Regions from separate parts of the Homo sapiens genome. Here region 2 is linked to region 1. Evidence: fine-mapped expression QTL. A gene starts in region 1. The other region holds a variant in brackets. All regions are shown on one strand. Distances are between the middles of the regions. Region 1 holds the start of STX16-NPEPL1 (STX16-NPEPL1 readthrough (NMD candidate)). Region 2 holds the start of NPEPL1 (aminopeptidase like 1).

Evidence for each region. PIP is the estimated chance that this variant, and not a neighbour inherited with it, causes the effect.
Region 2: its variant is fine-mapped to the expression of STX16-NPEPL1 in skeletal muscle (GTEx, PIP 0.93).

What each region holds. Positions count from the first base shown.
Region 1 is chr20:58,642,343-58,658,076 of GRCh38, forward strand. It overlaps STX16-NPEPL1 (STX16-NPEPL1 readthrough (NMD candidate)), which reads left to right and starts at 8,911. Exons shown (of 23, transcript NR_037945.1): 1 at 8,911-9,796. It overlaps STX16 (syntaxin 16), which reads left to right and starts at 8,941. Exons shown (of 9, transcript NM_001001433.3): 1 at 8,941-9,796. The coding sequence starts at 9,665. LOC107985410 (a long non-coding RNA gene) reads right to left here and starts at 7,293. Exons shown (of 3, transcript XR_005647058.2): 1 at 6,647-7,293. RefSeq lists silencers at 5,151-5,445, 7,844-8,203 and enhancers at 6,133-6,670, 9,700-9,969, 9,807-10,310.
Region 2 is chr20:58,685,558-58,701,291 of GRCh38, forward strand. NPEPL1 (aminopeptidase like 1) reads left to right here and starts at 7,243. Exons shown (of 12, transcript NM_024663.4): 1 at 7,243-7,493; 2 at 8,180-8,365; 3 at 8,865-9,035; 4 at 13,127-13,216; 5 at 13,640-13,721; 6 at 15,459-15,601. The coding sequence starts at 7,344. STX16-NPEPL1 (STX16-NPEPL1 readthrough (NMD candidate)) reads left to right here. Exons shown (of 23, transcript NR_037945.1): 9 at 5,477-5,670; 10 at 5,848-6,005; 11 at 6,167-6,223; 12 at 8,180-8,365; 13 at 8,865-9,035; 14 at 13,127-13,216; 15 at 13,640-13,721; 16 at 15,459-15,601. RefSeq lists enhancers at 6,676-7,381, 8,822-9,429 and silencers at 6,879-7,368, 7,379-7,538, 7,569-7,648, 7,669-7,758. The variant C/A (reference allele first, on the strand shown) is at 8,254.

The sequences.
Region 1 (15,734 bases):
GCACAGGTCTTCCCCTACCTCCTCCATGAAGATGCTTTCATTGAAATATCATCTCTCCCCTTTCTGAACTGCTGCTGCCTTTATAGTCACTTTGGCATATTTTTTCAAGCTCCGTTGCTCACTAATTGTTTCCCGTCTGTTGGTTTTGTGTCCCCAGCTAGACTGTGAGTTCTTTGAGAGCAGAACTTCTTTATAAACTCTTGCATCTCCCACAAGGCTGGGCTCATGGTAGCTACTCCATACTTCTGTGTTGGTCAGTCAACTGGTTCTTTCATGGATTGAGTCAGATCCCGGTACCGACTGTTAACAACCTTGTCCTTGGGGCACTACGGAGGTGCCGGAAATCATCGTGCTGGTAACTGTCACAGTAGGAGGCACCCTTAGATGGGGGAGTCCACTGGAGTGCAGCTCCTCTTATCCTCCTACTGCACCCTACCTAGATTGGAGCTTCTGCAAGAATGAACCTCTCAGTTACACCACGTTTTATCACTCTAACGTCTTTATGGACCCCAAAAACATCTATCCTATGGAAGTCTCTCCTTTGGAAGACACAGATAACATGTGTCTTGGGTCCCCAGATTCTGGAATAGCTAGCTCCTCAGGAGAAACGGAGCACCCAGAGAGAATCAAATGAGACTCACCCAGACCCCCTGTCCAGTCATATTTCCAGAGATAATGTGACACAGTCTGACTGAATCAGCCTTGATTTCCATCAAGAAGACATGAAGTCCGGGCGCGGTGGCTCACGCCTGTCATCCCAGCACTTTGGGAGGCCGAGGTGAGTGGATCACTTGAGATCAGGAGTTTGAGACCAGCCTGGCCAACATGGTGAAACCTCATTAGCTGGATGTGGTGGCACATGCCTGTAATCTCAGCTACTGGGGAGGCTGAGGCAGGAGAATCACTTGAACCCAGGAGGCGGAGGTTGCAGTGAGCCGAGATCGCACCATTGCACTCCAGCCTGGGCAACAGAGCGAGACCCTGTCTTGGAAAAAAAAAAAAAAAAGGTCGAAGCACGGAGTATGCAGAGAATGTTCTGCAGGGCACAGGATTCAAGGCAGGGGTGGCTGGAAAGACCCTGGACACATCCAGCTTTGAGAGCAAAGTTAAAGAGTTATTTTTTTCTAATAGGCAGTAGGAAGACAAAGCAGTTATCTAATCAGGAAAGGAACATGAACAGATTGATATTTTTACAAAGGTGATGGTTTGGAAAGCATTCCACACCAGGGACCAGCACTGGAGGTGTGACGACCAGCTAGACAGTCTGTTGTGATTTTCCAGGCAAAAGAGGTGATAAGAGCAGTGAAGATGGAGAGGAGAGCAGACTGTTGATATTTAGGATGCAGAATCTGTCACGATGTGGTCCTGAGTGGTACATTGGCAGGTGGTGGGGGCAAATGGGAGCAAGGATGGTAAATGATACCAAAGGCTCTATTTAGGGGTGCCAATGAAAGATAAGGAATAGAGGAGAAGGAAGAGCATGCTTGGATGGGCAGCCAGTGGTTCACTGTTGAGCATGTAAGACACCTAGGCAGCTCCGTGCAGTGGAAAATCCACACGGATGCTCTGAATGAGAGGCAGAGTGTGTGCAGGAGGCCCATGGGTAGAGTGTGCGCAGGAGGCCCATGGGTAGAGTGTGCGCAGGAGGCCCATGGGTAGAGTGTGCGCAGGAGGCCCATGGGTAGAGTGTGCGCAGGAGGCCCATGGGTAGAGTGTGCGCAGGAGGCCCATGGGTAGAGTGTGCGCAGGAGGCCCATGGGTAGAGTGTGCGCAGGAGGCCCATGGGTAGAGTGTGCGCAGGAGGCCCATGGGTAGAGTGTGTGCAGGAGGCCCATGGGTAGGCGGGACCTGCCACTGTGGTTAGGTGAAAGGTAACAGAAAAGCAAGGACTTAACACTGGGGAAAATCAAAATTTGGGGGCTGGGCCTCAGAGGGATGATGAAGGAGGAGAAGCAGGCATGACCAAAGTTCCAGAAGCCAGAGGAGTGGGTTTGAAGGAGAGGCATATAGCAGTGTGCAAAGGGCACACAGTGGGTTGAAAACAGACCCAAGGTAGAAATCTGTTGCATGCGAGCACCCAACATCACTTTTCTTGGTTCTAACACGCTGATTTCAGAAGAGGCGAGTTTATAATCCATTGTGTTTGGATGGATCAGACCCTGGCACCCTCCCTGAGTTCAGAAGTGGTCACGTGATCCTGGTCTGACCCATCTGATGATCACTACTTTCTGGCTAAGTTTAGAATTTCAGGATACTAGCTCACATCTGCAATTCCAGCCTTTGGAAGGCCCAAGGCAGGTGGATAGTTTGAGCCCAGGAGTTCGAGACCAGCCTGGGCAACATGGTGAAACCCCATCTCTACAAAAAGTATAAAAAATTATGGCTGAGTGTGGTAGCTTATGCCTGTAATCCCAGCACTTTGGGAGGCCAAGGTGGGTTGATTCTTTAAGCCCAGGAATTCGAGACCAGCCTGGACCCCATCTCTACTAAAAATATAAAACTTAGCAGGGTACAGTGGCACATGTCCATGGTCTCAGCTACTTGGGAGGCTGAAGTGGGAGAATCATTTGAGGTTGCAGTGAGCTATGATAGCGCCACTGTACTCTAGCCAGGGTGACAGAGTGAGACCCTGTCTCAAAAAAAAAAAAAAAAGTATAAAAATTAGCCAGGCATGGTGGTACCTGCCTGTAGTCCCAACTACTTGGGAGGCTAAGGTGGGAGAATCACCTGAGTCTGGGAGGTTGAGGCTTCAGCGAGCTGTGATTGTGTCGCCACATTCTAGCTTGGGAGACAGAGTAAGACCCTGGCTCAAAAAAAAAAAAAAAAAAATGAATTCAGGGATAAGGCTATAACTCATGACAGGCCAATGAGAGTCCATTCTAGGACTTTTGAAACCACTGGAAAAGAGAAATTTCAATCTATTGGGGTTGCTGTCCTGTGAGATAACAGGGCAGAGCTTCCAGAGAGCAATCTGCCACCTCCTGGGGTTCACTGGCTTGAGAATGAAACCAGCACAGGGGAAGAAAGAGCTGAGAGATAGAAACTCCTTGTTGATATGTTTCCTCCTCTGGATCCAGCTACGCATAGATGTTTGGGCCAACACATTTGCTTTGAAGCTTAAGTCCATTTGATTTGGGTTCTGTCCCTTGTGACCAAAGGAGTCTTGAGCCATGCATGGCCACATAGCTAATAAGGGGCTGCTGGTTGCACAGGCAGCATCTGGAGAAGGCTGGAGTCCAGCCCTGCACTTGCACATCACACAAATTACCACGAGCAGGTCAGTGGTCATGGCCATGGGAAAAAAAACTAGAAACGAGTGAGTTGGCTATGTTTCAATACCTGCTAGCGGAAAAACACAATGATTTCCTTTATGTTTTTCAGGGTTTGAGTCATCCAGGTCAGTCCTGGCTTGGCACATTAACTTATTGTTCCTGCCAAGGGAGATGGTTAAGATGGGAGGGTTGATTTATTTGAGTACACATGTGTCCACATCATCCTGGAAAAAAAGTAAAATGCAGATATGCTTTGCTGGCATGTGTTGTGACCCAAGAGGCCTCTTCTTGGCCTCAAAGACCAAAAGCCACGATGTTAGACATTGTTTCAGTCTTGAACTTGACCAAGCATGGGCAGGCACCTGGTATGATGGTGACATAAGGGCCCTGGGAGAGGAGAGTCCTCTCCCCACACGGTGGACAGGGTAGGAGGATTACTTTCTATTGAATAGTCTGAGACAAGAGTGGTGAGAAGGAGCCAGTTATTTGAAGAACCTAGGAAGGAGAGCAAAGCAGGTGCTAAGGAGGTGTGAGGAATGGTGGGAAGGCTAGTGTGGCTGAAAAGGGGTGAGCGAGGGGGACAGAGAACTGCCCTAATCTCTCCACCCATTTTGAGTCTTGACTGTCTGGTATTCTCTAGCACTTAATATAGTTAATCTCACCTTTTGTGCATTAATCCATCCAGTCATCCATTCCGCAAACATTTATCACACCTGACAGTGTAGGGGGTGCTGTCTTCAATGAAGGGTTCACCAAGCAGAAGGGGCAAGACACATCCCCCGCCACTACCCCCACCAGGCAGAGAAAGGCCTGTGAGCCAAGTCCTGGAAAGAAAAAAGCTCACCATTTAGGTGGGGCCTGTTGGGCAGGGCTTTGAATGCCCAGGGGGCACTCCGCCATGTGGAAAGTGTAGAAAACCTAAATGCAGAACTCCAGGAAATACTGATCTATGGGAAAAAAATTGTACTGAAATCCATGATTCTGGAATAAATCAGATCTAGTCTTATACTATATTCTAATACAGCCAAGTGGTGGCAGGGACTGAAGGTTTAAGAGAAAGCGAGAAGAGAAACACTTAAGATGGAGACTACTCCATTAATTAGCTTCATTTTTTTTTTTCTGACAACCAAGAAAAGTCCATCATTAGTTAATATTAGTGATGCCCAGCTTGGTTCAACTTAGAGCACCTGTTTTCTGCTGAGCGTCATTTGAGATCGGCTGGCATGGGCCAGAGGGAGCTGTTTCAGGGCCTCAATCAGGCAGTGACATGATCAGATTTATGCTTTGGAAAGGTCACTGTGGCTGCAGGATGAGGAGGGAAGAGACGGGTGGTTGTTAGCAGGCTGCTGGGAAAATGTACACGATGAGAACCAGAATTTGGGTAGAGACAGTGGAGATGCAAATTCCCTGAAGGCAAGAGTTTTGCTGTTTCATTCTTTCAGCAGTGCCTGGCAAGAGATAGGCACAGCCACTGGTAGATTTTTAGAAATGCCTACTGTATTGAATTGTCTGGTATTAAAAGCTACGGGACTCCAGACAAAACAAAAGTGTTGCCTCTCTCCAGAGTCTCCCTTCTTGGGAGAGGCATCATAGCTGAAGACAGACCCAGATAGGGAGTTTTCTGTTGTTGGAAATACTCAAGGTTTTGAGGAACTATTTGGGGACACAGAACACACAACTCCTGTTACCCGAACCTGGCCCGAATCTGTCTGTCAGATCTGTGCAGACGAGACATATGTTAGGCCTGGGGGCTTTTGCTGCTTGATAAGCAAACAACCATCTGTCTTTCTATAGGTGGGAGAAAGACCAATGTTAAAAGGTGTCTTTGAGATGGTTTAGCCCCCTCTTCCACATGAGTGTGCACTGCAGACACATCTGGATTCCCAAGGTCCAGAACAAGAAGCTCGGAAACGTGCTTAGATTTCCAAGTGTTCAGTTCTCAATACCATGCCATTCTCTTTGGAGTTTATGATGCCTTCCAGGGAGAGCAGAGCCCACGTGAGCTTTCCAACAGTAAGACTACTGCTGTAATAAATCATATTGCCCATTTGTGGCGCACTTACTCTATGCTGAGGTTGTATAAGGGCTTACATGAGCCCTATCTCATTTAAATTGTTTTCACCAAAGGGTGTGTGTCCCACTGCTGACCTGTTGAGCTAACCATCCCCTCTCAGTACTTGAAAACCTGCACCTGCCCAAGCCATGGCCTGGCTTCAATGGGGCTTCCTCCTGCACTGAATGAGATGACAAGAAAACAATGAAACACTTGTCCCCAAAAGTGACTTATTGGATTCGTTGGCAGAATGTTAGAAAGTGGGTATGAAGCCCAAGAAACAGGACACGGAGCCTCACCAAGCCCGAGGAGTATTACCGAATCCTAGCCCAGGCCAAGAATGAGTCACAATGAAAGCTTTTAAAATGTAAAACCATCAACCTAGATTTCAATTCCAAGGAAACACATACTTGGCCATGGGGGAATGCTTTAAAAAAAAAAAAAAATCAAGCTTAAGTCACTTGACAGGAAAATAAAACAGCCAAGGAACATTCAAATATAATGATTTACATCCTTCCCCAACTCCCTTCCAGTGTGGGTCAGGGCGAACATGGACCATGGACGTGACTGGAGCCAGGGGTGCATGCCCTCTCTGGGCTCCCTCTTGGTTAACACTATTTCAGGCACACAATCCCATACCTAAACACAGCCTGCTTAGAGCTGCACCGTGCTGCCTTTGGGGCCTGGTCAGAGCTGCACGGTGCTGCCTTTGGGGCCTGGTCAGAGCTGCACGGTGCTGCCTTTGGGGCCTGGTCAGAGCTGCACGGTGCTGCCTTTGGGGCCTGGTCAGAGCTGCACGGTGCTGCCTTTGGGGCCTGGTCAGAGCTGCACGGTGCTGCCTTTGGGGCCTGGTCAGAGCTGCACGGTGCTGCCTTTGGGGCCTGGTCAGAGCTGCACCGTGCTGCCTTTGGGGCCTGGTCAGAGCTGCACGGTGCTGCCTTTGGGGCCTGGTCAGAGCTGCACGGTGCTGCCTTTGGGCTGCTATGCCAACTTCTTGGATTTTCCTGACCTCCCCGCTGTTAGGCTCTTGGGTTGCTTGGGGTGGCTGTTTTGGGAATACCAGGATTTTTCTTCCATTATTTGTGTGCAAGCAGTGTTCATTTCGCTCAAAGAAATGGAAGCTTGATTGATCTCCTAAATGTAAGAATGAGATTGTCCTGTAATAAATATTTAAGACTGACCAGGAAAGGCGACCACCATCTGCTGAAACACAAGACCAGGAATTACTTTGCTAAGCTTCCTGAACGGAGGGAATGAATGAATAACCATCCTATATAATATTTGCTCAGCACCTGGTAGTTTACAAAGAGTTTTCACTTACCTTATTTGATCTTCACAATAACCCCAGAGAAGTAGACAGGGCGCGGATTACGAGGATTACGAAAAACCCACATTTTTTTCTTTTTTTCTTAACAGATAAGGGCTCTAAAGGCTTAAAGTCACTCGAGGGAGGTCAGAGAGTTTGGGGACTAAATCTCGAGTCTCTCATTAATTCATGCACATATTTAAAAAATATTTATCCGGAGCCTGTTCCAAGCCAGATGAGATGGCAGTGGGTACAAAGATGAATAAAACACTGTCCCTGCGTAGGAAGAAGATCACGTTCTAGCCTGGGGGAGAGCGCCAGGAAAAGTAAACAGGTCCCCCCCTGCTTTGTGAGGTGATGAGTGCTGGGGAGATAGGAAGAGAGTGGGGACCATGTTTCTAATCTGATTCTCCTACCGACGACCAGCTCAGTTGTTATTTACAAATACCTGTCCCCTAAAGGGGGGAGCGGGGTTGGGGGGGCTTGGCCGTGCTGCTGGGGTCAGAGCTCGCAGGGGGGTTCTGCCGCAGTGTGGGGACAAACTCTCCCTTATTGGGCAAATATTTCCCGGGGCGCTACGCTAAGCACACGGGCTCCCCGAATTTCCCTCCCCAGGGCCTCTCTGTCTTTGGATGGCCTGTCAGCAAGTCCCTGCAGCCTCCAGCCCGGCCCGCGCGGCGACCCAGTCCCCTGTCGCCCGAATCTTCCACCGCTGCGAAGCGTCCCCGGGCGAGCGCCCTGCTCTCCGCGCTGCGCGGAAGCCAGAGCCGGTCCTCACAGTGAACTCGCCCAGCCCTGCTCGCGGCTCTCTCGATTTTATGTGGGTTTCGTTGGATGCATTTTGTTATTTGCCTCAATGGATGTTTCACATTAATTTTTAGTTGCACAACGAACGCGCGGGAACATTCTCCGTGAGAGAAAAAGCACGGGTGGGGGGCGGTTACCGGTGCTTCCCCCGGTCGCCTGGGGGTCCCGCACGCGCCCCGCGGGTGCCGCTGTCTGGCTGGGGTCCCTGGGTGAGCCGCGGGCACCGGCTTCGCGTCTCCCCGGGCGCGACTCCGCTTTGCAAGCGCTCAGCACACGGGAAACCCTCGGAAAACACACACGTGTGTAAAGTTTGTTCCACGCAGAAACAAAGGACGCGTGGGGGCCGCTTCTGGGGCCTCGGTCCTTTGTTGGAACCCCGCACCGCAGCCCGGCCCGCAGCCTCGCCCCGCAAGGGGAAGCCGGCCCTGCACAGGCCCGGGGCCCGGAAGGCGCCGCCGCACAGCTCTGCGCCCCCGACCCGCTCCGGCCGCGCGCTGGGCCAGGCCCTTGGCCTCAAGCCTCCCGGGCGGCTCCGGGCCGGACCCGGGTCTCCGTCGCGGGACGCCAGCCTGTTTGTGGGTGCCGTGCTCGGGCCCGGGCGGCCCCTGCCCGACGCGGCCCCACGGAGCCCCTGCACGAACCCCGCCGACCTGGCCCGGGGCGGCAAGTCGAGGTGCTTAGGGCGCCCTGGGCCCGGCCAACCGTGGAAAACCCGGCCCGGGGCACGGGGGGGCGCGGGGGTCGCAGGGCCAGGGCCCAGGCAGGGAACAGAGATTTTTTTCGCGGGGAGGGGGGTGGGAGGTGTCAAAGTTTTCGGGGAACTTTTCCACTTGAGATTCCACGACCCTGCAGTGCCCCCTACAGAAAGCGGCAGCTGGGGAGGGCGGGCGCCCCCGACGACCCCCGACTGCCAGCGGCGGCGCGGCCAGGCTGCCTGGAGTTCTTGTTCCTTTTTTTTTTTTTTTTTTCCTTTTATTTCCTCGTGGTTGTTTGTCGGATACATCTTTTTCCAGAGTGGGAAAAAAAAAAAAAAAAGCGAGCGCCGCCGCCTGCAGTAGAGCGTGCTCGGCCTGCAGAGGCAGTCGTCTCCAACTTTTCCTCTCCCGCTCCAACTCCCCGCGCCCAAAACTTCAGTTCTTGGGGAGCCCAAATTTGCCTGCCGCGCAACTTCCACTCTAATTCAGCGACCAAGGGCCCTGGCAGCGGTTTGCAGCCTGGGGGCCACGCTCCCCAGGCTCAGGCCTGCTCGTTGGCCTGCTCCTAGTGCCTGGACCCAGTTGGGGGAGGCGAAACAGGGCGCCCGAGGAGCACCCCGGGAGAGGGCGGAGCACTCCCGTGCCCCGGGGCAGGAGTGCAGGGAGCTCCCGCGCCCGGAACGTTGCGAGCAAGGCTTGCGAGCGTCGCAGGGGGGCACTCGCGAGGGACGGACAGGAAGAGGGCCAGGGGGGAACGCCAGAACCCGGGACCACAGCACGGAAACGGTCCGGGGCTGAGCTGCAGTCAGATCCGGGGATGGAGGGAGCCGGAGAAGAGGAGTGAGAAGGCCGGGGAGGCAGGCCCTGCTGTCTTCCTGCAGGCCGGCAGCCTGCTGGCAGTGGAGGACCAGGCCGTCCAGGAAAGGAAGGGGTCAGGAGGTCGGGCAGGGCCTCAGCAGGTTCAGACAAGTCCCCAGAAGGGAGCTGCAGGCGCCCTCGAGTCCAGGCCCCAAGCCTGGCTCCGGTTGTCCAAAGAGGGCCTAGGCCAGGCCTCTGGTGCGGAAACTGAGTCACAGCCAGACCTCAGGGCACGGCCTAGACGCTTACGAGCCAAAGTTAGGGGTAGAGAGCAGAGACCTCCGGGGGGTCTCAGGGAGTAGGGGGCTTCAGGGCCTCCCAGTCTAGAGCCGGATTGGCGAGTTAGACGCTTGTAGATCCAAGGTTGGATTGGGGTGGGGTCTCTGGGACGTTGGATCGCTACGCAAGGATTGGGGGGATTCAAGTGCTTAGAGATCGAAGTCTGCCCTGGGTAGGGGGAGTCAGACAATTGGAAAGCCTAGGTAGTTATTTGGGGAGGGGTCTCTACGCCTTGGCGAAGCGCACAGCTGCATCTTTTTGGCTTGAGGCCTGAGGCCTTGTCGAGAAGCTTCCGTGAAAGGGTGGGCCAGCCGGGCCACGAGAAAGAAAGTGAATAAATCAGGAATATAAGTGGGCGGGGGGCCCCTGAGAGGGGGGTCGCAAAGGGTGAGACATGGCCACCAGGCGTTTAACCGACGCTTTCTTGTTGTTGCGGAATAATTCCATCCAAAACCGGCAGCTGTTAGCCGAGCAAGTGAGTAGTCACATCACCTCCAGCCCTCTGCATTCACGTAGCATTGCTGCGGTGAGTCTCCTGGCGGCCTCTCCGACACACGGACCGTGTGCACTGCGGCTCTGCCTGTTTGTCTGTCTCTGTCTGTCTCTCTGTTTAAAAAGAGAAGATAAGAATAATAAGACTAAGAATAATAAGATCTCTTGGCTAGAGTCAGGGGGCATCTGTAGCCCTGGATGAGGAAGAAGCGGTGCTGTGAGGCCGCAGCTCCACCTCTGCCCGGTCTTCTCCTCACTTCCGCAGCACCCCCCCCCCCGCACCCCCCGCCTTGGCGTCACTGCGCTACAGGCCGCCTGTAATTTACATATGTTTTAACGCTAACATTGGGAAGCATTGGGCCTTTCTGAAGCCTTTTTGTTTCGTTTTGTTTGAAGCTCCCCTCCCCCCAGTAATGAGCCTCAGTTTGGTCCTAAGGGCTGGGTCGCCGGATCGTAGACCCAAATCCTTGCAAAATGAACGACTCCCTCCCCTCAAAGAGGAGGGAGTTGTGTTGTTGTTTTGTTTTGTTTTGTTTTTCCGCCCGTTTTCTTTTAACGGCCCCGCAGCCCTCTGTGTGGCCTTGTTCCCTGTGAATAATTGCCTCACTGTTCTTCCTGGGGGCTTGCGTTTGTGAGACTCAAGGTGCTAGCCTCTTCACTTTCCATTTCCCAGACAGGAAATTAAGCTTTCCTCTCCATTCGAACTTTTTAAAAAAAGCCTGAGGAGGTATATGTGAAAATTAACCCCGTAAAATAGCACTTTTTTTTTTTAATTAACCACAACCTTTAGTTAGCCTAGCAGTAGCGTTTTTTAAGGGTGGTCCTGGAAAAATTACTGTTTGGGGTTTGTTTTTAATGGGGGCTACTTTTCCCTTTCTGAGCCTCAGTTTACTGCTCTGTTAAATAAGGGGCGAGTCTGGATGATCTATACCAGACAGTGATCGTTAGCTCTGTAATGTCTTCAATTGAAAAGTGAAGTTATGAAACTGGCTGTAGTTCAGGCTACCTGCTGTAGGCAGACTAGGTTGGAATAGAAGCAGCGTTGGAACAGGCGGGAAATAGCCATCCCAGGACCACATTCTTGGGGGTTATACTTGATATTAGGCAATTTTGGAACATTCATTTCACCTCTTAGGGACTGTATTGCCAGTTTATTTTTTTCTTTATGGCTTTATCTAAATGCTTCAGGAAAATTTTGCCATATGTCATGATTATCATGTCTACAAAGACAGTTTCTCCTTTTTGTAAGTCACAGGTGGAGAATGTCTTTGGCCATATAACTGATAGAAAAGTCATTTTAAGCCGTGTGAGCGGTTTCAGGAATAAAAGCATGTAAACTCAGGTCAAACAGCCTAGAACTAGGGACAGAGTGTGTGTGAGATTTCAGTTAATTAAGAAGTTGAAGGGTTTTTTTTACATTTATAAACGGAAAGGAATTACATTATATTGAAATAAATGTAAAGATGTCTGGTAGCATAGAAACAGGCTAATTCTAGCGCTAATTTTGAAGAAGAAATAATCCAAGAAATCGAGTAGAAATTGGATGAATTCAATTCCTTAATGGAACTTCAGTAATGTTAAATAAGAACTGCATGTTCCTTAAATGACTTGATTTTGTGCTGCCTCAAAAACTACTGAAACTCATATTAAGATTTCTAAGGTATCAGTTTTAATTGAAAAACATATTGTTTATTTTTCAATTTTTAATCATTAAGGTTCAAAATACCCTGAACCTTTGGGTAACATGAGGGTTTTTTTTTTTTTCCCGATTAAGTCAGACAGTTTAAAAACCTAGTATCTGAGACGGGAAGCTTTTTAAAAGTGCATCTCTGAATCAGACCACTTTAGAAAATTATTTTCTAAGTTAGGCAATTTTAAAAAATATTTAAGCTAAGCAGAATAATTAAAAATGGATAGTTAACGTATACAGTTTGGAAAAATAGATATGTCAGGGTATATACAGATACATTTAGCTAACTCACAGTTTTTTGAAAATAGATTTCTAAACCCAACTAAAAATACATTTCTAAGAACGTTAAAAAATGTTTTCTAAATGTCATACCATTGAAAATGTTAATATTTATATTAGTCTGACCATTTAAAATCTTTCTCAGATCATTGAAAGCAGTCATATCATTTAAAATATCCTTATAGTCAATCCATACTATCTCAAAAATAGGTTTTGCAGTCTAACAAACATAGTTTGCCTGAATTCAAATTTAAAAATAAAACACAGATTTATATATTTTAATTGTGTTAAAAAATGGCATGTCATAAATTTCTGAAGTATTTAGGGTTGAAGTGTTACATCTTCACTTTGCTTACAGGTGATTCGTAACAAAATCTATTCTGCACACAGTACGGCGAAATGCTAACAAGACTAAATAGAGGTTATGATTTTTTCAACTTTTCTGGAAGTTGGAAAAGCTTTATAAACATTTTGAAGCAAAAGCCATGTTTAACACAATTTGTAAAATCTATTGAGTAACTCTTAGCAATGCTTTTCACTGCATATCTAGCTCACAAAAAATTTAAAGCCTTGTTTCTGACTTGTAAATTTCAAAGCCATGTAGCAAACCAAACAAAATCGTATCTGTCAAATTTTGAATATGGACTAGGTATTAGGTGACATTAAGGAATTAATTATAATACATTACATTTGCTAATTTTATTAGAGATGCCTACTGAAATGTTTAGTGGTGAAATGTCAAGGCATCTTACCTAAGTCCTTAAACCCCTCCAAAAATAGAGGAAGCAAATAAGGCAAATTGTTACTCATTGTTAAGTCTAGTGATGAGTATGTGTGCGACATTTTACCATTTTGTAGGCTTTTCTGCATGTTTGAAAATTTTTAAATAGAAACTTAAAGTAAGTATATTTGTTATAGTAAAGTAAAACAGTTAAAAAGAGGCAATTTGTAAATACATGTCTAACACTCAGGCAATTTGAAAGGAAGAAATTAAACCTAAGTTTAACTTAATTTAAAAAATAATAACCTGGAATTTTAAGTTTCCAATTAGAAGAAAAAGCTGTAGACTTTGATCTTGATGCATTTGATACCAACTAAAAATACACCTAAAATAACAGACTTTTTAAAAAAAAAATTGTAATCCTGAATTTTGACATCTTATTTCAGGAAAAAGCTGCAGAAATTAATTGCAGAGTAGTGTGTATCATACACCTCAAAGCAAAGCACACCTAAAGCCATGCCATTCAAAAAATTTAAACATGCATTTTTTGCATCCTAGTTTGAGGGAAAAAACTAGAATTTGGTTGTTGTAGTGGGGTTATTGTGTGTCCCTGTGCGTGCATACAGGGTTTTGCAGCATTCAGGCAAATATGTCAAATAAACAGGAATTTAAGGAGGATACGCAGTGACCAGATAAACACAAAGCCTCAAGGGCCAGAAGGAACCTAAAGGTCATTTGGCCTAATGTCCCCATTTGTGATAACCCCTCATGCCTATCTTATTTGGCCATGGTGTATGACAATGATGGAAAATGCCAGCAGCTCCATGATTTTTACCACTAAAAAGTCTTTGCCTGTTAATCCCAACTATTTGTGTCCTGGGGTCCTGCTTTTAGTTCTGTTCCTTCGGGTCTTCCTTCTGTCTGGTAACCCTGCAGCCTTGTTACCCAGAATTCTTTCCAGGCCTAGCATTCCCGGCTCAGAGTGGTTATGCTTTTTTCCTATAAATGATGTTTAGTTTTTCTGTATCCTTTTTAGATTTCAGCATCCAGAACTGAGCAAAATTCTACTTTTTTGTGTTCTTAGTTGTATTAAAGTTAGTAAAACTAATTGTAAAAAAACAGACAGGTTTGACTTTATGCACTCCTAACAAAATACAGTCGTATTTCCCATGCATTTTACTTTGGCCTCAGTTTTGAGTGCCCCATCACGTTCATGCCTCAGGGCAGCATGAAATAAAGGAAAGAGCACTGAGAATTGAATCTGAGAATTGAGGCCTAAGTCCTGTTCTGCTGCAGGCTCAGAGTGTGTCCTTAGGCAAGCCTTTAATCTTTTCGGACATTTTTTGCCTCATTTGTAAACTGAGGGGTTTGGGTTAGGTGATTTCCAGCAGCCCTATCGATTCAACAGTATTTTCTCAAGTTCTGTTTTAATACATTGTTTCTCCTGACTTTAGCTTTAATTTGAAAAGGAGAAATTCATAGTCAACAGTGTTGTAGCTGTCAGTCCAAGGTTACTGACAGAAATCCTTAGAAGTAGCCCCAGTACTGTGCAAAAGTAACTTTCACATTATTATGCCAGCCAAGTGCAGGTTTTAAGGTAGCAACTCATTCAAGCAGCTTGGCTTTAGGAAACTGAAATGGATTTATGAAGCTAAACAATTATTCAAAACAAATTGTAAAGTCATAAAGAAATGAATGAAAGGTAGATATTGAGATGCTCTTCTGATCTGATGAAATTCTGTATGGATTTGTGTGGTTTCCTTCGATCTCCGGGAATGGATCTAATATAGGGGTTGGAGCTACTTTGTTAGTGTTTACTGCCTAATCTATACTCTGCTTTAAAATAATGCATAATCTATAATTGGAAGCTAGCGTTAATTGGTCTTAGATTAGTTTGAAACATAAGCACATTATTTTTAATAAAATGTGTGCTTTAGGAAAAAGGAAATTAAGGATTAACTATGGTTATAAGAAACCTGAGGTCCTTATTCAGGCTTGACTACAATATTAGCTAAGATTTATGGAGAGTTTACTTTGTGCCTGGCTCTGGGCTAAGCCCTTTCCGTGTGTAAGCTCAGCTCATCTTCACAGTGCTCTATCAAATAAGTACTATTGTTTTTCTCAGATACAGATAAGGAAACAGATTTTAGAGGAGGTAGGAAACTGGCCCAGTGTCACCCACCTGATGGCTGGGGGCTGTGATTGGAACTCTGGCAAATCTGGCTTCAGAGCCCCGTGCTCACCTCCTGGGCCACTCTGGTGTTGGCTGCATTTTCAGAACTTGTGCTGCAGATCCTGGAAAATGGAAGGACCTATTGTTTTAAAACAATTTTTTTTCTTGCAATAGGCTAGCATCTTTCTTTATCTCACTTTATGAACCTTACATAGTCAATTTTAACTTGCAGATTGAAGATTCTAAGTTTTAGTACAAGCTGAGTCTGTTGGAAAATTAGTTCTCTGTCTTTAGAATCCAAGTATGAAATCATTATATATTTCTCTTTAGATCTACTTGCTTTTCTGCTTTTAAAGATTCCATGGGAGCAGTGAGGCTTACTTTGAGAATAAGGGTACTTTGTTGGATAAAAGTGAAGCAAACTTTTATTTTGGCAGTAACGGAAATAAAGTAAATATCACTATAGCATAGACCTGTGTTTCCAACTCATTTTGCTCAACTTTTCCAGACTTCCTGAGTAAACACAGATGGGTTTCCACTTATTTTTCAGTTTTATGTAGAAAGTTCTTTAGACTATAAATTCCACATGCTACTTGGAGTTTTCAGTGTTTGCTTGATTGCATGCCATTGGAAGGTCAAAAACCTAGATTTAGACATTATAAAGATTTAGAAGGTGATGATGTGTAGTAACGTGTTTTCATTTGGCTTTATTTTGGTCTTTCTTGATGGTAATTCTAAATGTTTTAATTCAGGTCTTGACTAAATTTCCTGGTAATTTGGTGGCAGACAGAATTTTGAAAGCCTTCTATTTTTAAATAGCAGAATGGTGGGGAGGGTCTTTGAAAAGGTGACCTTAATTTAATATTCCTGATGTGGTGGTAGCTGCCTATCACAAGTAATTCCCTGAATTGTTAATAAAATTAGAGAGGCTGGAGGGTGGGGTGGAAAGAGACCTGAACACCTGGGTCTGTCCCCAGTCTGACCATTAACAAGCTCTGTGGCTTCAAGCAATGCATTTATACATTTTGAAGCTTAGTTTTCTTATTTGTAAGAAAAGACTTATTTCTAGCCCTAGAATCCCATGATTCTGATTTCACCTCTTATCAACT
Region 2 (15,734 bases), 43 kb after region 1:
GTATATGTGGAATATATCCCTGGAATATACTCTTAGGAACAAAAAGTTAAAACATCTTGAACTCTGTGTTGTGGGTTTGTTGTCGGGAGCGGAGGCTATTGGTGAGTGTTGTGGGAAACAGAGTGAGAAACCCTAGGAGGGGCTGGGAACCAGGGTCCTCACTGTGGCAGAGGGAGATGCGATTATGGAAGATGGGCAGGTGAGGAAAAGCCCTGTCACGTGGATTTGAATGGGAGGAATCAGTATCAACTCATGATGTTAAAGAAAACCTGATCTTAACAGATCCAAGAGGACCAGGAGCAATGACGCCCAAGTGGCAGGGAGCATGCCCAGCACAAGAGCTTGGTCTCTAACTCTGAAGCTGTTGGCTCTAACCAACCATTCCCCTCACTGAATGGAGCTAGGGTTTCTCGGAGAAATGGCTGACTCTGGATTTGGGTCAAGGAAGGAACAAAGTGAGCCTGTGATCATCTTACTGTTCCAGGAAGGACAAAGTCCTTGAAAATGGATAAGAACACATCAAAAAGGAGCCTGCCTGATGCAGCTCTCATTGGCCTAAGTGGGGACACTTGGGAGCAGTGACGTTTGATGAGATGCACACACGTATGGGCTGTGGCAGGGCTGGCTTCAAGGATGTGCAGCCACCATAGCCACATGGGCCCTGTGCCTAGTTTAGTGCTCAGCTGTTGCCATCTTGAAATTGCTTTTTGAAAGAGAGGCGCTGCGTTTTCGTTTTGCACTGGACTCCACAAATCATGCTGCCAGCCCTGGGGAGGGGGAGGTCTTTGCTGAAGAACACCAGGTAGTAAGTGTAGAAGGGAGGATAGAGCTGGAAAGTCACTCAACCAATACTTGATTCAGGCAGAAATCATCACTGGATACCAAAGACATTCAGGAATAGATGGTTGAGACCCAGACGGTTCTTAGTCTCAAAGTGTCACTCCATGGATTCTAAAGAGGAAATTATAATTCAATTAATTATAAAAGGGGGAAATGCACTTTTACCATGAAGAGATCTGGCAGACCCCACTTGCCCAATGATGGGGGACACTTAGTTTATGTGCCTCCTGATGAGGTTCGATGGGAACCATAACCCGTATTTTTGCCAAAAACGTTCAACCCAAATCTAAGAAAACAGACGAATCCAGATGGTGAGAGCTTCTGTAGGATATACCAGTGCATGAAAGACAAGGGTAAGGACTGTTCTGGATTAAAGGAGGCCAGAGAGGCTTCACAGCCAAACGCAATGCCTTATTTGGATTCTGGATTTAAAAAGAAAAAGCCATGAAGGACAAGGGGACGATTAAAGTTTCATTGCAGACTGTATACTGGATAATAGTATTGTTTCAATGTTAAATTTCATGGGTATGATCAGCATATGATCATGATTATGTTGGCTGGTGTCCTTGTTCTTTTTTTTTTTTTTTATACTTTAAGTTTTAGGGTACATGCGCACATTGTGCAGGTTAGTTACATATGTATACATGTGCCATGCTGGTGCGCTGCACCCACTAACTCGTCATCTAGCATTAGGTATATCTCCCAATGCTATCCCTCCCCCCTCCCGCCACCCCACAACCGTCCCCAGAGTGTGATATTCCCCTTCCTGTGTCCGTGTGATCTCATTGTTCAATTCCCACCTATGAGTGAGAATATGCGGTGTTTGGTTTTTTGTTCTTGCGATAGTTTACTGAGAATGATGATTTCCAATTTCATCCATGTCCCTACAAAGGACATGAACTCATCATTTTTTATGGCTGCATAGTATTCCATGGTGTATATGTGCCACATTTTCTTAATCCAGTCTATCATTGTTGGACATTTGGGTTGGTTCCAAGTCTTTGCTATTGTGAATAATGGCGCCATAAACATACGTGTGCATGTGTCTTTATAGCAGCATGATTTATAGTCCTTTGGGTATATACCCAGTAATGGGATGGCTGGGTCAAATGGTATTTCCAGTTCCAGATCCCTGAGGAATCGCCACACTGACTTCCACAATGGTTGAACTAGTTTACAGTCCCACCAACAGTGTAAAAGTGTTCCTATTTCTCCACATCCTCTCCAGCACCTGTTGTTTCCTGACTTTTTAATGATTGCCATTCTAACTGGTGTGAGATGGTATCTCATTGTGGTTTTGATTTGCATTTCTCTGATGGCCAGTGATGATGAGCATTTTTTCATGCGTTTTTTGGCTGCATAAATGTCTTCTTTTGAGAAGTGTCTGTTCATGTCCTTCACCCACTTTTTGATGGGGTTGTTTGTTTTTTTCTTGTAAATTTGTTTGAGTTCATTGTAGATTCTGGATATTAGCCCTTTGTCGGATGAGTAGGTTGCGAAAATTTTCTCCCATTTTGTAGGTTGCCTGTTCACTCTGATGGTAGTTTAATTCCTTTTTTTTTTTTTTTTTTTTTTCTGAGATGGAGTTTCACTCCTGTTGCCCAGGCTGGAGTGCAATGGCGCAATCTCGGCTCACTGCAACCTGCGCCTCCCAGGTTCAAGCGATTCTTCTGTCTCAGCCTCCCGAGTAGCTGGGATTACAGGTGCATGCCACCACGCCTGGCTGATTTTTGTGTTTTTAGTAGAGACGGGTTTTTGCCATGTTGGCCAGGCTGGTCTTGAACTCCTGACCTCAGGAGATCTGCCCGTCTTGGCCTCCCAAAGTGCTGGGATTACAGGCGTGAGCCACCACGCCCGGCTGGTGTCCTTGTTCTTAAGAGATACACAATGAGGTAGGGGTGTATACAACTTACTTTAAATGGTACAGGGAAAAATATGTGTACATACATACATATACATATACACATATACATATACATATATACATACACACACATACACATATACGCATGTTTGTGTATATAGAGGCATACCTCACTTTACTGTGGCGGTCTGGAACTGAACCCAGAATATCTCCGAGGTGTGCCTGTATGTGTGTATATATGTGTGTGTGTGTGTCTATGTGTGTGTGTGTCTATGTGTGTGTTTGTGTGTATGTGTGTGTCTGTGTGTGTATACATGTGTGTATGTGCGTATATATGTGTATGTGTGTGTGTGGTGTGTGTGGTGTGTGTGTGTGTGGTGTGTGTGTATGTGTGTGTGGTGTGTGCGTGTATGTGTGTGTGGTGTGTGTGTGGTGTGTGTGTGTGTGTATCTGTATATATATGTATGAATCTAGGTGAAGGGTATACAAGTGTTCATTATACTAGTTTTTCATCTTTTCCAAAAGTTAATGAACTTTTCAAAAAAGTTTCTAGAGAAATGTGTTTTCATGGCAACGAGTTCTCTTTCCTCCCTTCAGGGAACATTTAGTGCAAATCTAGGTGGCATGTCTGGTGCCAGTTGCAAAAGGCAACGGAGGCCCTCCCTGCTGTGCAGGCACTCAGGTTGCAGCAAGGGACAGCACAAACATCCACAACGCAGGGCAGCATTCAAGGCGGTCGTGCAGCTGTCACAGTTTTCACTGGTTGTGGGCTCACTTCTCAGCCAGCTGCTCAGGGAGGTCCTTGGAGCTGAGCCTGCCTCTGCTTCCTCTGGGCTCACGAGCAGGTCATTCTGAAGCAGGAAGGAGCCCTTCCTTGCTTCCACTTCAGGCCTGCCTGAGGCACTTCCACTGGTCTCCAGTTACTTGCAAGGTCAAGTACAACCTGCAAGGTCAGTATATATTTTATGCGCACTTTATATCTGGCACAGGAGCTTTTCTTTTTCTTTCTTTTTTTTTTGTAGAGACAGAGTCTCTGTCCTGCAGATTGGAGTGCAGTGGCGTGATCTCGGCTCACTGCAACTTCCGCTTCCCAGGTTCAAGTGATTCTCATGCCTCAGCCTCCCGAGTAGCTGGGATTACAGGCATGCACCACCATGCCCAGCTTATTTTTGTAGTTTTAGTAGAGATGGGTTTTCACCATGTTGGCCAGGCTGGTCTCAAACTCCTGGCCTCAAGTGATCCACCTGCCTCAGCCTCCCAAAGTGTTGGGATTACAGGCCTGAGCCACGGGGCCTGGTTCCACATGAGCTTTTGACAGTGCCAGAATGAACCATGTCCTTTACTACTTCAGGCCTTTGCATGAACAATTCCTTGGTCAGGGATCAGACTGCCTGACACACTTTAACCGATCCCTCCAGGCCCAACTCAAAAGTCTCATCGTAGTCCAAGGGGCCTTCCCTAACTCAATCTTCTCCCAGTGACTGGATCTCTGGATTTTACTGTTCTACTTGCTTCCCCTTCCTCCTCCTGGCCACACACACATATGCGTGCACATGCACAAACACACACACACACACACACGCTATTGCGTCCCCAAAGCCTCACGGGTCCTGTAGCTTTTCAGAACTGATGTTCAACAAATGTATGTCAAATGAATGAATGAATGAAAATGCTAGAAAATACGAAGCAGATGCACCGAGGAAATGTTTCTTTGAAGTATCGGATATAATGGAATCTGAGAGCCTCGTGGCAATCAGCTGAGTCTAAGCAGGCATTAGGTTTTATAGGGGTGAAGTCTGACATGAAATTAACATATAAATGTAGATTTCAAACACCTAGAGCCATCTTACAAGATAGGATTTCAGAAATGTGTCCTAGAATGTGAACTGTACCAAAAAACATCCTAGTAAGTTCTAGGAGCTTTATTCTGATTTGTCCCAGAAGTTTTTAATCTTTTCTTCAACTTTGGAGCAAAGTCTGAACATCCAATTGAATGTGGAATAGGTTTCAAGCCATCAAAAACATAAGTTGATTTTTGGGTTGCATTAAAGATCTGGTAATTTGTTTTAAACTTTCATTTTTTAAGGAAAATTAAATAGAGTTGAATTTTTCATTGACAGTGAAATATATAGTAAGCCATGGATTAATACCTTCATAAAAATTTATCTAAACAAAGTGCTGCCTGTCTTATTTATGTTAAAGTCTGTAAAGTCAGCAGTGAAAAAGGGAAAGTACTTTCCTGGAATGTATTTGTATCTGTCACAAGCTGAATCTTGAGGAAATTGGCAGGCATTTGAAGTGGAATAATTCCTTAGCGTTCTGTTTAGTTTGGATTTCTTCAATTCGGGGGTGGCTTAAAACCAGAATCACCAATATTTGCTTTTAACAAGCATCTAACGTTTTCTCTTGCTTTGTGTACACTAAGTGCTCAACAAATGTTGGTTGAATTGAATCATTTTGTTCATCCTTTCTGGGGACTGTCAGGGTTATTCAGTCTATTCTTAAATATGAAAGAATTCTAAAAGAAAAACATCTCCAAAATGACCTCTCCACCAACAGTTTATCTCATTTCCAACTCCTTGTACACAAACCTGCTAGATCTGGCTTTCTGAAATGCTTCTTGGATCCCTCTTCAGTTTGCAAAATTCTATAGAGTGAGCCAGGCTCCCCAGTCGATCTCCTCACCCACTCCTATTTTCCAGGAACCTTCTGTTCTAACCACACAGGTTTCAGAGCCTGCTGGACATATTCTGCGTCTGTGTTTCCTCCCAGGACTTCTCCCACGTGGAAGGCCTTCTTTCTCAATCTCTTCGCCTGTGGAAGTCCTATTACATCTGTCAGGGCATGGCCTTAGTCTCTCACCCTCTAGGAAGATCCTCCAGCTGTCTCAGTCCTCTGGAGTGCCGTGTGCCTGTCTGCAACGTATTTGCAAACAGAAAAAAGAGTGAGAGATCTTCATACACACTGTTAGTACCCTTTACCAATGTGTGAAAACATTCAGCTGCTGTAAAATCTTTTGAAGAAAATAAGATCCAATTAGCGTTGACTTTTATGTCGGGAAAGCTGAGGGTTTCAAAGGAATGCCTTTCAGTCATTCAACAGCTTTTTTTTTTTTTTTTTTTTTTTTTTTTTTTTTTTTTGAGTGCCTGCTCTGTGCCAGGAACTGGAGGAAAAAAAAACAACAAAAAGTCAAAAAGACCTGCCTTCAGGATGCTGAAGCTCTAGTCTGTGGTGTTTCCAAGGGGCCAGGGACCATGGCTCAGAGCTGAGCAGACAGACCTGGAGCCTGTGGACAGGGAAGGTGAAAGCCTGGCTTGTGGCTCCCGGGGCTACAAGTTAGGGAGCTAGGGGGCCAGCTGGGAGGTCAGTGGTGGAAAACCTCTCACACCACGCCAGGGAGTTGACAGTGCTTTTTTTTCTTTTTTTCTTTTCTTTTTTTTTTTTTTTTTTTTTCATTTTTAGGCTGGTTATGAAGAAGAAACTCAAAATAACAGGAGTGGCTTATGGAACTACATGGAGGTAACAGAGGAGGGTACCAACCAAAGGCCCTTGAGCAATCAGGATGTTGGGTAACAGATTTTTGCTTTTAAATGACTCCTGGGTGGAGCTTCCCCAATGCATCGTCATTCCCTGACCCTTGCATCTGACCCTGTGGGTGGGACCCTCCGCCTCCACCATCCACTCAAGGCTCACCCCTGGCTCCTCCACCACCCGGCTCCTGCCCCACACCCCCGATGGCCTTTCCTCCCCTGTAAGGCGACTGAGGTGACTCAGGTCACCCTGCTCCTTCCTCGTCTCATCTCGTCCCTCCTTTCCTGCTTAGACTGTGCCAGATGACCCTTCTTGCAAAGGGGTGGGCGGGAAGGCCCCCCATGCAGCCAGGCAGTGCCTGGATTTGTAACTGGCCATCCCAGCAGCAGTGCCCTGGATGGAAAGCCACGTCCCTGTCACCCTCTCACATCCAGGGCAGTGCCTGGCAGAGCGGGGTCTGATAAACGCCAGGGAACCTCCGATTAAGTGAGGAGGAAGTGACCGTCCACGCTGTACCCACCATGCCAGGCAGTGGGACAAAAGGACCTGACTCAGGTCCAAGAGTCACTGGGCCCCTCCGGCCTAACTGATGGGTGGCCAGGGTGCGGGGTCCCTGGGGATCAAAAGCAGCTGCTAAGGGACCTCGGGGGACCTGCTTGGGGCCAGCCTGAGGCCTGACCGGGCGGAACTGCGTCGGGTGGGCTTGGGCCTACGTCGGCCCAGGCCCCACTGGAGGCCAGGCCCGTCCGGGAGGCGCTGCCTGGCGGGCCACGTCGCCCCGCGTGTTGGGCAGGGCCGCTAGGCCCAGGGGCGGCGCCGCTGGAGGCCGGGCGCGCGGGCCCTACTCGGCAGGGCCTGCTCGGGGCCGGCTTCGGGCCTGCCCGGCCGGGCCTGCCCGCACCCTTCCGCCCGGCCTGGCCGGCGCCCCCTCGCGCCCCGGGCGGGCCCTGCACGTCTCGCGAGCAGCCCGGAGCGGCGGGGGAGGCGGGGCCCGCGGGCTGCCGGGCAGGGCCGGGGCGGTGCCGAGGCCGGGCCGGAGCGGGGCGAAGGGGGCCGAGCGGCGGGCCGGGCCGGGCCGGGCAGGGCCGGGGCGTGGGCCGGCAGGAAGATGGCGAACGTGGGGCTGCAGTTCCAGGCGAGCGCGGGGGACTCGGACCCACAGAGCCGGCCCCTGCTGCTGCTCGGGCAGCTGCACCACCTGCACCGCGTGCCCTGGAGCCACGTCCGCGGGAAGCTGCAGCCCCGGGTCACCGAGGAGGTGAGCGGGCCGCCGGCCGCCATGCGACCCGCGCCGCGGAAGCCCAGGCCCGGGCGGCCCGCGGAGGCCCCGCCTCGCCCGCCGCACCCCCGCCGCCGCCGGGCCGGGCCCAACGAGGCCGGGCCGCCTCCCTGAAGGGCTCAGCCGCCAGGCCAGTCCTCGCCCGCGGAGGCCCAGCCCCAGGCCCCGTCGCCGGTGCGGCGCGGTGGTCCTCCTGTCAGCCCAGCCCTGCGCCCCGCGAGGCCGCGACACCTGCGGACGGCGGGGGGGGAGACGTGGCCGCTCCCAGGGCCGCGCGTCGGCCCCGCCTGGCGACAGGCCCTGGCTTCCAGAAGTTCCCATGGCAGTGTCCCCAGCTGCCTTTCCTTGGGGACACCTGGCCCCTGCCCCCTCTCTGGTGGAAGCCGCCTAAGCCCTATCCGAGTGTTGGAAGCAAAGCAGCCCCCAGCCTGGCCCTTCCAGGCTTGGTGGCTTCATCCCACCAGGGGGATGCGAGCCAGCCTAGAGACAGTTAGCTCTGCAGAGAGGCGACACATCTCCCTAAGGATGGGAAAACGGTGGCCGGGAGCTGCGCAGTGCCCTTCCAGGACTGCAGGAGTGGTTGTGGCCGTGGCTGCAGGGCAGGGCCTCCTGGCACGTGGCCGCTGTTTGAAGCCTCTGTGTCTTGTCTCTCCCTTCTGATCTAGCTCTGGCAGGCTGCCCTGAGCACGCTCAACCCCAACCCCACGGACAGCTGTCCCCTCTACCTGAACTACGCCAC[C/A]GTGGCTGCCCTGCCCTGCAGGGTGAGCCGGCACAACAGCCCCTCGGCCGCCCACTTCATCACGCGGCTGGTGCGGACCTGCCTGCCGCCCGGAGCGCATCGCTGCATTGTGGTGAGTGCTTCGAGAGGAGGCAGCCACGGTGCTCCTAGTCGGGCAGCGGTGAGCTCGGGCCTGGGGAGCTCACAGCCCTGCTCAGACTGCAGCGCACGCCCAGAGGGCTGTGGACGTTATCATCCCTGCTCTGTAGACAGGGAAACAGGTCCAGAGAGACGCGGGGATTTGCCCCAGATCAGTTTTGGTGGCAAATCAGAGACTCAAACCTAGATTTCCTGAGGCCCACTTTGTGTCTGTCCCTCTGTCCCTCATTTTCATGGCTGGTCAGGCTGTTGACATCTGGTGGCCAATGTGTTATTTCTCTTGGAGCATGACCAATGGTGGTCCCATGGTTCCGGGGATGACCTGAGGGATGGGGTGGCGGCTGCTGTGGGACATCTCTGTCTAGATGTCACCTGCCAGGGAGCTGATGTTCCGGAGGCGTTCAAAGAGCAGCTCCCTGCACTCCCTGGTGGCGGCCCTTGCACCCCTCACGCCGTCTCCCTATGTGCCACAGATGGTCTGCGAGCAGCCGGAGGTCTTTGCTTCCGCCTGTGCCCTGGCCCGGGCCTTCCCGCTGTTCACCCACCGCTCAGGTGCCTCTCGGCGCTTGGAGAAGAAGACGGTCACCGTGGAGTTTTTCCTGGTGGGACAAGACAACGGGCCGGTGGAGGTGTCCACATTGCAGGTGGGTGTCTGGAAGGGCAGACACTGCCCCTGGGCCCGGGCAAGATCGGGCAGGTGGGAGGGAGGTCGGGAGAGGGAAAAGCTTGTTGCGGGGGCAGGAGGGGGTTCCTGCCCTTCCCAGGAGCTTTGGTTCCTGGGAAGCGGCAGAGGCTTTTCCAAACCCAGGCCCCCTGCCTCTGCCTCAGCGTGGTCTGTGACTTCAGGATTCTGTTGTATACAGGCAGTGTTTGTTGAGCACGTAATCAGTGCCAGGAACGTCCATGCTGTTTTCCAAATAACCCTGCCCGTTTATGTGAGCTCCGTGTGCACGTGTGTGATGTATGCACGTGTGTGTGTATGTGCGTGCACATGTGTGTTGCTGTGCGTGTATGAGTGTATGTGCATGTGTTGTATGTGTGGGGGGTGTGTGTGTGCATGTGTGATGTGTGTGTGTGTGTGGTATGTGTTGCTGTGTATGTTTGCTGGTGTGTGCATGAGTGGTGTGTGTGGTGTACGTGTGGTATGTGTTGCTGTGTGTGTGTGTTTGCTGGTGTGTGCATGAGTGGTGTGTGTGTGTGGTGTGCATGTGTGGTGTGTGCATGTGTGGTGTGTGTTGTTGTGTGTGAGTACTGGTGTGTGCATGAGCAGCATGTGTTGCTGTGTGTATGAGTGCTGGTGTGTGCATGAGTGGTGTGTGTGTGTGTTGTGTGTGTTGCTGTGTGTGTATGAGTGCTAGTGTGTGCATGAGTGGTGTGTGTGTGGTGTGTGTGCATGTGTGTTGCTGCACCCTTTACAGGGAGCACTTCTACATGTGTTATTTCACTCAATGCTGAGAATGATCCTTTTGAGGCTGCAAGGCCGGAAGTGATTTCCCAGCTCCAGATCCTTGGATGGGCCTGACATCAGGCTCCTGTCCCCACGGCAGCGGTCCCAGCCTCTGCGCCTGCCACCTCCAGTCCCCGAGCCCACAGCGCCACCCAGGTTGTCTTTTCTCATGTGTCAGCGCTCATTCTTCACTTCTGGCTCTGGAAGGCTGTCGCCTTCACCCAGGCAAGCTCTCCCACATCAGCACTTGGGCCACACCTCATTTCTTTCACTGTGTGCTCTCTGAGGCCTGTAACCACTGCCCCTCAACCCAAATTCTTCCATCTTCACCAGCATGAGATAGCTCCCCTTTTTTCCCTTCGTCTCTGAGCTTTTAAAAAAGTCTAACTGGTTTGCCTTGCTTAATCCTCTTTTCCCTCTTAACCCATGGAGACAGAGTTTTTGCCCCCATCCTGACATTGTTTTCTAAGGACTGCTGGATGGGGTGTTGCCGTCCCTCCTTGAAGTGCATCTGCCCCATCCAGAGGTCTCCCTCCCTCCCGCTGCTCCCCAGACTGCTGCCACCTCTCGGCATCCCCTTCATGGCCTCTCCAGCGTTCCGACCTGCTCAGCCCTCTCCGGGTCAGACACCAGCATCTGCCTCTTCTCTCTGTCTTTAGGGATTTTCTTCTGACTTCCAGGCCTGCCATCCAGGTGGGCACGGGTGCCCGCAGAGCCCACCGGGGGCTCAAGCATCACCCTTATTTCCGAGGACAGCAGGGCACCCTGACCTCTGCTGCCCTCAGTCCCTTCCCCTCCTGTGGACTTCCTGCTGTCCCTTAGACTGGCCACGCCCACTCCTGCTCTTGCTCCTCTGCAGGGGTCCTTCCCTCTCCAGCCCAGCATGGTCTCCATCCAGCCTCTGCCCACATTCCCTCCCCAGGGAGGCCTGGCCCTCTTGGCTAGCACCACCCTCCCATTTGTCAGCTAAACCATCACTACTAGACATGTCACATCTTTGTTGATCTCCTGTGCTCCTCACTGGGTTGGGAGTCCCCAGAGGGCAGGGACCTGGTCTTGTGCACAGTGATCCCAGCACCCGACCCCACACATGAAAAAGGCCCAGTAAACATCTGGTGATGGAACCAGTGGGGGCAGTCAGTCCCCATGGCCCCCGACCCCATTGGTCCCAACTAGCTAGTGTGTCCTGTTTCTTGTCTTTGCTCTGCCCAGTGCCGTGCCTTGAGGTGCTCTCCTGGGCTGTGGCAGCAGTCTCCTGGTCACCCTGCCACAGATGGCCTCCTTCCAGCTCCTGCGTCACTCGCCTTCCAAAGGCACATCTGGGTGTGTGCAAGGTGGCATCTTCTGAGTGCTGTCAGCTGTCAGGCCCTGCGCTGAGGCAGGAGTGTGCACACAGCACGTGCTGGTGCACTGAATTCTCACTACAGCCCTGTGAGATACATCCTGTTGTCCCCACGACATTGAGTGGCTCACCGGGGCCACGGCAGCAAGGGGCAGAGCCAGGTGTTAAGCTGCAGCTGCCACCACTCAGCCCTCTTGGGTCCTGAGCACACCATCATCTGACACCCACGTGGCCTGTACTCAGCTTCTCCCTTTTCTTCCCTGCGGGAACCTTCCAGTCCCCACCCAGGACCCTGTCCCCTCTGCATCCTGTGGCCTCATCCTCTTCTGTAGCAGGGACTGGGACTGTGTACTGTGAGTCTCTGCTGAGCTTGACTCCCTTGGACGTCTCTGAATTCTCAGAGTCTTGCACGATGCCTGGCACATGTGGACAGAATGAGTGGTCCTCCTCTCATGGTAAGGGACACCCTTCCCCAGTGCAGCATGGCTGTGTGTTGGTGGAGGGCACCCGCAGCCCTGCCCTCCCTCCCACAGGAGCGCTCTTGCGTCAGAGCCCCGAGCTCGCCGTGGTCTGGGGTCTTCCAGGTGACACCTGGCCTCCTTGGAGGCAAGTCACACAGCATTGACGCACTTCTCAGACAGTCCTTGTCGAGTCCCCACATGCCCTCACAGACAGAGAACCCGCTGACAGGCGGCAGGGACGGCTCAGGCACATTCATATCAGAGCTGTCAAGGTCCAGGTTTCTACCTTTGAGGCTTTGGGGTTTAATTACCTCGGCAGGGCGGGGGAGGTGGCCAGGCTGCAGTATCGACCCGGCGCCTGCTGCCCTGACATTATGAGACTAGAGGCAGGGATGATAAACTTGCTGCTGTCCTGCACCCCCGCAAAACAGCGCTGCTCTTCTCTTAATATTGTCTTTCTGGTGAGCAAGGGAGGCCGTGCAAGCAGCCAGCTGTCTGAAGCTTCTGTGCCTGGGGATGCACAGTGGGGAACAGGGTGGGGAAGGGGTGCCCGCAGATTCAGCTGAGAGAGAGTGAAGCTCCCAGGGCAGATGTGAGACACACATGAGAAGGCAAAGAATGGCCCAAGCCAGGGCTGAAGGACACATTTTTGGGACCCACGTGATGTGTGCTTTGGTGCATGTGCCCCTCTCTGCCCTGCCTTCGAGTGTGGGCTCTGAAGCCCTGCCAGGCCAGCAGGGCCCATGTTTTCAGTTCCTGGGTGGACACGTCAGTTCCATGAGGCGAGACCTCCCTCTGTGTCCTTCCCCTCCGTGCCCAGAACCGTGCTGTGTCAAGTGACAGCACTAGGGCAGCCAGACCCCCATCTGTCTTGCAGGGTTTATGAGGGACTTGCGTGGGACTCATGAGGAAAGCAACGGCCCAGAGGGAAGGCGTCTGGGAGGGCCAGCAGGTTCAAGCACTCAGGATGTAGAGTGCTTCTGCTTGGTGGGGAGGATCTGGAAAAGCTACTGGTAGATACGGCCTATGAGAAGTGCCTCGAAGGATGACTGGGATCTTGGTGGGAGGGAAAGGACTGTGGGATCTGCAGAGGTGAGGCGTGGGAAGCTCAGGGCATACTCAGGGGCTGGCATGAGGGCCACCTACCTTCAGTTGTAGCTGGAATCAGGGGAGAAACAGGACACAGGGCTTGGAAAAGATCCAGATACAGAAGGGCAGGACCCCAGGCTGGGGACTCCTGTATATTTGTGGAGGCGCAGGGTGGTGGCTGTGCTGAAGGTTCTTTCTACAGGTGGCCGGTGGCCCTGGGTTGCTGGGGGTGGGGCAGGCAGCGAGAGCCATGGTCCCCCTCTCCCCTCTCTTTGCTGCCCTGTCAGTAGCCCTGTGGGTGATGTTTGCCTCTGCTGCCTTTTGTTCCTGGGGGATGGACAAGGGGAGAACATCTGCCTCCCACCTGGTCCCCAGTGATGGCCTTTTTCTCCCTAGTGCTTAGCGAATGCCACAGACGGCGTGCGGCTAGCAGCCCGCATCGTGGACACACCCTGCAATGAGATGAACACCGACACCTTCCTCGAGGTTTGTGGCGTCATCAGGCCGGGGGTGGGACCAGGCTGGGGTGGGTGTCATAGACTCCCAGGAGAGCCAGAGGAAACCTGGGGCTGTCCACACCCTGACGTGGCCAGGGAACCTCAGGGCTGCCCTCGGCGGAGCGCTGCTGTCTGCCGGGCTCCAGGAAGCCTCAGGAAAGGGTGTGTGGGGAGGACAGAGCCTCCTCTTCAAGGCCCCTTGGCAGGACCACAGCCAGAGCTACAGGAAATGAGAGTGTGTGGAGGGTGAGCCCCCTCTTCTGGGTTTCATCACACGCGAAGCTGGCTCCCAAGCCCGGCTCCCCGACGCGGCACAGGCAGCGGTTCATCCCTGGCCCCAGCCTCGGCCTCTCCTGTTTCCAGCCATCTTCATGTGTTGTTGTGCTGTTGTTTTTTCCATGAACATGTCCAGGAGATTAACAAAGTTGGAAAGGAGCTGGGGATCATCCCAACCATCATCCGGGATGAGGAACTGAAGACGAGAGGATTTGGAGGTGGGTGGGGGCTGCATCCCTGCAGCTCTTGGCCTCGGGCAGTGGCCAGGGGCACTTGGGTGGCAGGGGGTCGGCGGGCCACATGGCACATTGTCCCAAACTTCATCCTGCTTGTGACCTGAAAGGAATCAGCCTGTGTCCAAGCCCAGTGCCGGACCCTGGGAAGCAGCCGTCCCTGGGGGAGAAGGGGAGGCAATCCAGATTCTGATTTGGATTCTGGAAGCTGCTAGATCCAAGTCCTTCCCTGCCTGCAGCCTCTCCAGCGTCCTCGCGTGCTGCACACCCTTACTCCTGGGACTGGCTCAGCAGGGCCTTTCTGTTCCTTGAATACACAAGTTCCCATCACGGCAGGCAGGGCCTGTGTGCGGATGGCTCTCCCTATCTGGAATACTTTCCCCCAAGATATATTTTTGGTGGAGGCCATCTCAACCAATGCCCCCTCCTCAGAGAGGCCTTCCCCAAGTCCCCAGACCCACCTTTCCCCACTGCCCAGGAACCAGAGGGGCAGATAAGTATGACTCAGCTGCCCCGTGGTGCTTGTAGACTGGCAAGAGGAAGGCGGCTGTCTGTGTTATGTGTGGCTACAAAACAAATCACTCGGAAGATAGCAGCTGAATGCAGCAACACTTATCCCCTCCCCGTGCTGTGGGTTGGGGATCTTCCCCTGGTGCAGCGTCTCTGCCTGCTGTTGTCAGGTTGTTGGCTGGGGCTGCAGTCATCTGAGGGCTTGCCTGGGGCTGGCGATGTGCTTCCGGGCAGGCTCACAACAGGCTGCTGGCAGGTCTCAGGGCCTCACAGGCCATTAGCTGGAGGCAGCAGGTCCTTGCTGTTTGAGCCACCCTCCGAGCAAGGTCTCTGAGCGAGAGATAGGGATAAAGAGCGAGCAAACAAGATGGAAACTCCCATCTTTTTCTGTGACCTAATCCCAGGAGTGATATCTCATCACTTCTACCTTTTTCTTTTGGTTAGAGGTGAGACATCAGGACCTGCTCACATGAGGGGGAGGGACTGCACAAGGACATGAATACCCAGACGTGGGGGCCACAGGGGCCATCCTGGTGGTGTCTACCTAGACAGGAGCCATTTACAAGTGGAGGGAGAGGCCGCTTGTGTCAGGAAAAGCTTCACAGAGGAGGTGGCATTTGCTGTGGATCTTACAGGATGAGTTGGAGTTTGTCAGGCAGCCATGATTAGCTCTCGTCATTGTTGCTATGATTGTTTGACTCAATTATTGCAGGACTTTGAGCCATAGACTCTGCACACGCACAGGCCACAGCTTTCTTGAGAAGATGTGTCATGTAAACCAAAGAGGCAGTGGTGCAGGGACTGTGGGAGCGAGTGTGAAAGGGCGGTGCAGTCCCTGAGTGCTCAAAGGATTCAGGAAGTGGGGACGAGCATGGGCTGGGGCAGCCTTGAGGTGTTATCCAAACATCGTTTCATTCTGCAATCCTGTTCTTTTCTTTCTGGAAAGGATACAATATTTTTTTCCCTTAGTGGGTTTTCTTGCTTAACAAACAACACTTTGCATAGAATTTGTTTGCAATCTCAGACATTGGAGCTAATTTGCATTCCCCAATCCCACACTGGCCAGGGGCAGGAGAAGGGGCAGGGAGCACCAGGCTCAGGCAGGCGGCTCTCCAGGAGAAACACCAGCCGGCCAGAGTTTCCAGGGGCCTCTGGGAGTTCCCCGCTCAGCTCAGCCCGAGCCTAACCCAGTTCTCCCCACGCTTTCCATAGGAATCTATGGGGTTGGCAAAGCCGCCCTGCATCCCCCAGCCCTGGCCGTCCTCAGCCACACCCCAGATGGAGCCACGCAGACCATCGCCTGGGTGGGCAAAGGCATCGTCTATGACACTGGAGGCCTCAGCATCAAAGGGAAGGTGAGGTGCGGGCTGGCTCTCAGGGTGCCCTGGGGGAGGGGAGGGGAAGGTGAGGTGCAGGGCCCGGCTCTCCCGGGTGCCCTGGGGGTGGGGTGGGGTGGGGTGGGGAGGGGAAGGTGAGGTGTGGGCCCGG